Linked DNA regions of Homo sapiens. The protein of the gene in region 2 purifies or fractionates together with the protein of the main gene of each other region. This does not show direct contact. Each region holds a gene or a part of one and is shown on either strand. Other genes may lie near its edges. The genes, in order: PDP2 and NOX5.

What was found.
Region 1: the proteins of NOX5 (region 2) and PDP2 purify together in Homo sapiens (affinity purification with mass spectrometry, with the first as the bait; 2 studies listed by BioGRID). This does not show direct contact.

Annotation. Positions count from the first base shown.
Region 1 is NC_000016.10:66,886,886-66,890,710, forward strand, and holds part of PDP2 ([Pyruvate dehydrogenase [acetyl-transferring]]-phosphatase 2, mitochondrial precursor), read left to right. Parts: 3' UTR 1-3,825. UniProt on the Homo sapiens protein: Mitochondrial enzyme that catalyzes the dephosphorylation and concomitant reactivation of the alpha subunit of the E1 component of the pyruvate dehydrogenase complex (PDC), thereby stimulating the conversion of pyruvate into acetyl-CoA.
Region 2 is NC_000015.10:69,017,634-69,021,458, reverse strand, and holds part of NOX5 (NADPH oxidase 5), read right to left. Parts: intron 1-3,825. UniProt on the Homo sapiens protein: Calcium-dependent NADPH oxidase that catalyzes the generation of superoxide from molecular oxygen utilizing NADPH as an electron donor. May play a role in cell growth and apoptosis.

The DNA.
Region 1 (3,825 bases), on a different chromosome or scaffold from region 2:
TGCAGGAAAGGAGAAAATGTGATTGCATGTGGTAGTTGTGGTGATAGACGTTTAGACAGGACAGGTTAATTTAGCGGATTGTGGACTTAAGATTCAACCTCTATCTGGAGAGGTGAAAACACAAAGGCTTAAGGACAACAGTTTCTAACCAAGTTTCTCTGAATCCTTTCCTGAGAGGTGGTGGGCAGGAGGGAGGAGTGAGACTTATCAGATGGGACGCTTGCCCCAAGACTGTGGGATAAACCACCATTGCTAGTCCTCAGGAATTAGACCATATTTAGTATAGGAGTTGGGGCAAAAATAAAAGTGTAATTTGTAATGGTTTCTGTGGGCTGTAGACTCTTTGTATTTACTTGGAAATTCAGTTATGTGGATCCATTTTGGAGATGAATTTCATCTCATGAGTTGCTGTGGCATTTAAACAACAGGAAATGTGTCCCTAAATGGAAACAAATATAATCCCACAAAACCAACAATTTTATTTGCCTCTACTACGTCAGGCAGAATTCTTCAATTAAGTTGAACTACATTTGTTGATCCCTTTTCTCATCTTACCCCTTTATGCCACCTACTGAAAAGAAAAACAAATAGCTAGGTTTGGTTTCCTGTTTTTTGTCTATGTCCCAGCTGACATTCAGTCAAATGTTGGGATACTTCTAATTTGGTGGTGTTTCTTTGTACATTTTTCAGTGCAACTGTTTAGTCATGTGTTTTCATCTAAGAAATTATCTTTTGAATATTTAAGCCTTGATCCTTTTATTCTGAAACCATTAATATTCCTTCTTGGCTGGGTGCAGTAGTTTACGCCTGTAATCCCAGCACTGTGGGAGGCCGAGGCGGATGGATCACCTGAGGTCGGGAATTCGAGACCAGCCTGACCAACATGGAGAAACTCCATCTCTACTAAAAATACAAAATTAGCCAGGTGTGGTGGTGCATGCCTGTAATCCCAGCTACTCGGGAGGCTGAGGCAGGAAAATCACTTGAACCCGGGAGGCGGAGGTTGCGGTGAGCCAAGATCGCACCATTGCACTCCAGCCTGGGCAACAAGAGTGAAACTCTGTCTCAAAAAAAAAAAAAAAAAATCCATCTTATCTCTTAGTCCGTCCTTCCTTCCTTCCTTCCTTCCTTCCTTCCTTCCTTCCTTCCTTCCTTCCTTCCTTCCTTCCTTCCTCTCTCTCTCTTTCTTTCTTTCTTTCCTTCTTGACAGGGTCTCCCTGTAGCCAGGCTGGAGTGCAATGGCATGATCTTGGCTCACTGCAACCTCTGCAGCCCAGGCTCAAACGATCCTCCTGCCTCAGCCTCCCGAGTAGCTGGGACTATGCACCACCATGCCTGGCTAATTTTTTTAATTTTTTGTAGAGACAGGGTTTTGCCATGTTGCCCAGGCTGGTCTCAAACTCCTAGACTCAAGCAATCTGCCCACCTCGGCCTCCCAAGGTGCTGGGATGATAGGCATGAGCCACCGCACCCAGCCTATCTCCTAGATCTTGAATCAAAAATAAAATGTAAATCACTTCCATTCTGCTAGCATGAGGGTTTGTTGCTAAAATTGAGGATTCTATCTGACGTTTACTTTTTGTTGTTTTTTGAGACAAGGTCTTGCTTTGTCGCCCATGCTGGAGTGCAGTGGCATCATTATAACTCACTGTCAAACTCCTGGACTCCAATGTTCCCTCCCCTTTTAGCCTCCCAAGTAGCTGGGTCTACAGGCATGAACCATCAGGCCCAGATAATTAAAAAAACTTTTTTTGGTGAAAACATGATCTTGCTATGTTGCTCAGGCTGGTTGTCTGGCATTTTCTTTGTCCTTTATTCTTTATACTAGCTAAACCCTGGAGTATCCTTGAAGCCTTTACTGGCATACAGAGTACCTGAATCTTACTTTGGAGCCTAGCATGGGTCATAAATATATCTGATTCATTAACCTGTGAGACAGCTGAGAGAACACAGACTCCTTACCTGTATCTCCAGGCATATCTGGTTTTTCTCTGCCTAATAGATTTTCCTGCTTTCTAGTTAGTAATATTGAGAAAGAAGAAAGGCTTATTTATCATTTGCTTTTTTTCCACTGTGAATCATCTGTTCTTTCCATGAACATTCTGGGGAGCACCTCCTGATTAAACTCCTGTCTCCCTGACCACTATCCTGCTGTCATTGGACTTCTTGAAGCACATGGGCTACTGCCCCAGGACACTGGGATTTGAGAGGAGTTTAGTGGTAATTGTCAGGTCTTTCAAAGCATTTATTATTCCTTTTATACGGAGATTTCAGTATTGAGACTTAAAATGAACTGAAAAATGAGATTGAACATTTAATATTTTGGATGTAACTTTTGAAGAAAGTATGCTTTGGTGCTTAAAATTGTATATGATTTTAGGTAAGAAACTTTGATAATATTGGCATAATTTAGATTTATTTTCTTTCTTTTTTTTGAGACAGTCTCACTCAGTCGCCCAGGCTGAAGTGCAGTGACACAGTCTCAGCTCACTGCAACGTCTGCCTCCCAGATTGAAGTGACTCTCGTGCCTCTGCCACAGAGTAGCTGGGATTACAGGCATGCACCACCACACACCGCTAATTTTTTGTATTTTTAGTAGAGACAGAGTTTCACCATGTTGGCCAGGCTGCGAACTCCTGAGCTCAAGTGATCCTCCCACCTCAGCTTCCCAAAGTGCTAGCATTACAGGCATGAGCCACCACACCTCACCAGATTTTTAAAAAATATATAACTGCATCTCTCTTGATTCTGGGGCTTGGTAAAAATGGATAGATAAGATAGTATTCTAAATTCAAATTCGTGGCTAGGCACAGTGGCCCACACCTGTAATCCCAGCACTTTGGGATTCCAAGACAGAAGACTCACTTGAGTACAGTATGAGACCAGCCTGGGCAACATAGATCTTGCCTCTACAAAAAAAAAAAAAAATAGCCAGGTGTGGCACATGCCTGTAGTCTCAGCTGCTTGGAAGGCTGAAATGAGAGGATCTCTTGAGCCCAGGAGGTCTAGGCCAGAGTGAGCTGTGATCGTGCCATTGCACTCCAGACTGAGTGACAGAGTGAGACTGTGTCTAAAAAAAAAGTTTGAATTAAAAAAAAAAAAAAAAAAGTCGGCTGTGCACGGTGGCTCATGCCTGTGATCCCAGCACTTTCGGAGGCCAAAGTGGGTGGATTACCTGAGGTCAGGAGTTTGAGACCAGCCTGACCAACATGGTAAAACTCCATCTCTACTAAAAATACAAAAATTAGCCTGGAATAGTGGCGCATGCCTGTAATCCCAGCTACTTGTGAGGCTGAGGCAGGAGAATCCCTTGAACCCAGAAGGCAGAGGTTGCAGTGAGCTGAGATTGTGCCATTGCACTCCAGCCTGGGCAACATGAGCGAAACTCCATCTCAAAAAAACAAAAACAAAAAACAAACTCAAATTAGCATGATAGATCAGGCTACTTAGATTCAGCTTTCTGAGATGTTATTTGTTAACATTAAGGCTAATTTATTATAATGAAAATGTAAACTTTGAGGTATGTTAATATATAAACATCTTTTTCCTTTGGCCTAAAAGGTCTTTAGTATTCAGCACACTGGGTAAAGTTCAGTTTAGACACAATCAAATTGGCATCTTTTAAACATAAGTGAAATATAGAGAGCTTGAACTTGAGTTACTTAAAGAAGATACAGTATAATTAATTATACAGAACAAAACAAAGATGTGTTTAGAGTGACTCTGGCCTGACTCTTGTCCATCAGCCCCTAGTAGCCTATCTTCAGCCTTTGGGAAGTCTTAACTTCCCAGGTTAAACTAGAATATTCTGGAACTGAGCTGTC
Region 2 (3,825 bases):
GTAGTCCCAGCTACTGGGGAGGCTGAGGCAGGAGAATCACTTGAACCCAGGAGGCAGAGGTTGCAGTGAGTTGAGATCACAGATGCTGTCTCAAAAAAAAAAAAAAAAAGAATTCAAAAGGGCAGTTAAATGTCAACCATTGAAAATAATGTCAGGGCCAGCTTGTTTTTAGAGCTGAGTTCTATCTAATCTTCAAAGAATGATAAACCCAATGGTAAACCATCTTAGATCATAGAAAGAGATAGTAAGATTCCCAATTCATTTTACAAAGCAAGCTTTACCCAAATCCAATGAAAAGAGCATATGAAAAGGAAATTCTATACAAGTTTAACTTATACAAAGCTTTAACTAAAATATAACTGAATTAAATCTAGAAGGTCACTTTAAAAAAAAAACAAACCCAACCTTAGTTTAGTTAGTTAGAACCTAATTAGTTAGTTAGAACTTAGTTTAGTAATGTAAGGATGGTTCATTATTAAGACGCCTATCAACGTAATTTTTGATATCAACAAATTAAAGAAGAAAAATAGTTTTTATTATGTCAATAAATGCTAAGGAAGCACCTGATAAAGTTCAAAATTCATTCTTAATTAAAACTATAAGAAAAATGGGAGGAAATTACCTAGTTTACAAACTAGTAATTTTCTCTCTTGTTCTATGATATTTGCAATGTTTATTTAGTTTCTCTAGTTTAATGCATTAAATTCAATCTCCAAATACTAGGTATTAGTGATGGCTAGTTTCTGGGCTCAAGGGAAACAGACCAAAATCAATGATCTATATCTATCTATATTTATATGCATATAAAAATTGATATCTATATATATATATTCATATTTATTTACATCTTTACCATCTATCTTATTAGCCAAAGCAGTTACAAATGGAAATTTTAAAAAATTGTATTTATAATTGTTATTAAAAGTTGGATAATTAAATAAATGCTTTTGGCAAAATGTCTACACAGAATAAAATAATTAGATAACTACAGTATACTATTTTATTTACATTTTCTGATCAAATTATAAATGCCTAAATGTAAAAATAAATAAAATAATGAGAATTAGCAGAAATTATAGGAAATTTGTATCATCTTTAAGTAGGGGCACAAGATAGGGATCCCAAAAACATTAAGGAAAATGATCTGTAGATCTGCATATGTAAAAATTAATTTCTGCATGACAGAAGACAACAAATTCAAAAGGCAATAGGCTGAAGGAAAATATTTGCAATAAGCATGATGGAATGGTCACACCTGTTATAAAATAACAACAACTAAAAGGGCAACAATAACAGTAAATGCTTTTATTAGGTATTGATAAATTGCAGCTGTGTTAGTGTTCTTTTAACATAGAAGTCCTATAGGTTTGACAGAAGCAAAAACAAACAAACAGAAACCAGCAATGGAAAGTAGCAAAAGATATAAAAGGACAATTCATAAGAGAGAACTTATATTGGTTGATAAACATTTGAAAAGATGTTCAATTCACTTCTCATGCCTGGGGAAATGGGATTTATAACAATTATATCTTTTGTAGTTGGGGGAAGTGGTATCAGAATGCCAAAAATCAAAAGATTGGTAATATCCAATATAAACAGTGCTGGTGAGAACATGAATTGTACTATCTTTCAGGCAATTCAATTTTTAGGAATGTATCCTACAAAAATAAAAGTGTTACTGCATAATGGCCCATATCCATCATCCACCACTGTGTACTAGATTGCCATTCAAAACAGCTAAGCCCGCCCACGTTATCTATAATAGGTGTGAATTGATTTGAATAAATACAGTAGCACTGTGTGGAAGGGAATCATCAGGCTGTCAGCACTGGTCCTTAAAGAGGCAGGACTGGAGGGGAGAAAGAGGATTTCAGTTCTGTATTGCTTTACGCCTCAGTATGATTGATCTGATGGTATCCATGAGCATACACCATTCTTGTGATAATCTTTGAAAACTCTTCATTTTGAGATAATTATGGATTCACATACAGGTATGAGCCATAATGTAGAGATTTCTTTATTCCGTTTCTCCCAATTGTAATATCTCACAAAATTGTAGTACAATATCACAAAGAGGATACTGACATTGATAGAGTCAAGATACAGAACTTTCCACCACAAGACTCTCTCAAGTTGCCGGTTCACAGCCACACCTACATCCCTCCCTGCCCCCTTCCATGGCAGGTGGGCAGTGGGCAAAGTCCTGACTCTCCACTGGGCCTCCTCTGACCATCCCAGTCGGGAGGAGGAGGGAGTACCTCGTTACTGCCGGGTATGACAATTAAAAAGCAAGCAAGGCCGGGGGTGGTGGCTCATGCCTGTAATCCTAATACACTGGGAGGCTGAGGCAGGAGGACTGCTTGAGTTAAGGAGTTTGAGACCAGCCTGCGCAACATAGTGAAACCTCATCTCTACAAAAATTTAAAAAATTAGCCAGGCATGATAGCATGCACCTGTGATCCCAGCTACTCTAGCAGCTGAGGTGGGAGGATGGCTTGAGCCTAGAAGGTCGAAGCTAAAGTGAACTTTAATCACACCATTGCACTCCAGCCTGGGCAACAGAGAACCCATCCCTTATAACATAATAAAATATAAAATAGAATAGAATAGAGCAAACAAAAAATCCCTCTCCATCCCCTGACCTTTAATCCTGTGCCATCAGTGAGCTCTGGCCCGGGATGTGGCTCCCCAGGGCAGCTTCTCCAAAAGGTGATATCAAGGGTGTTACTGGCCTCTTATCCCCCAGCAAATTAATACCTTAGTAAAACAAACATTTTACACGGCACAACCTCATCCCAGAACACACCTGTGAGGCAAGTGGCTCAACAGGTACAGCCCACTGATCAGATGAGAATCCGCCCTCTGAAGCACGGTTCCCAGCTTTGGGCGTCCAGTAACACAAAAGAGTCTTGTGGGGGTGGGGGTGGGGGTGGTCCTCACTTGGTGGGAGAGGTGCACTGTCAGCATCTCCCTAGGTTGTGTCCCAGCTAACTGTAATTCCCTATCAGAGCAGCGTTTTCTAGGTTAAAATAAGGGCTTATGGAGACCAAGCTTTCATCATTCAGGTAAAGCCTCCACGTAGCAGGCTTCAAAGACAACAGAGTGTAAATGTTTCTTATCAGACTTAAAGAGTCTGTTGCTGGCTCACACCAACTCCGCCAGCTGCCTCTCACCTGCCTGAGCAAGTACCCGGTCCCCAGGCCTGGCCCTGCAGCCTCCTTGCCCATTCTCCCTGCCAATCCCTAGGAATCCCACCTGCTGCTTGTTCCTCTTTCTCTGAAACCCAAATGGGAGTTGGAGTTTCCCTAGGATGCCTGAGCAACCGGCGCCTCTGGGGCTCCATGAGTGCGGTCCGGTCCATGGACCGCCCACAATTGCATCATCTCAAGAGTTGAAAGTGCACATTCTCTGCAGCCCCAGATCTTCAGGACCAGAAGCTCTGAGGTTTGGGCCCTGGGAGTGTGAATTCTAGCAAGCATTCTCAGAGCCGCTGGTATTACTGAGTGAAAAGAAACCCTCAGACAGCACTTCCATGGTTTTCTAAAGTGCCTCGTGCCTGCTGGGTGATCCTGTGCCAGTTATTTGACCTCTGTTTCTCTGTTTGACCTCTTTATAGGCATGTGTCTTATGCTATATATGTGTGGCATGTATTTGAGTGTGTGTGTGTGTGTGTGTGTGTGTGTATAAAATATATCAACAAAGAGTCAAACTATAAAATACTTGAAGATACTTACTCTGAGCCAAATACGAGTGACCAATGGCCTGTGACACAGCCCTCAAGCTATCCTGAGAACATATACCCAAGGCTGTTGGGTCACAACTTGG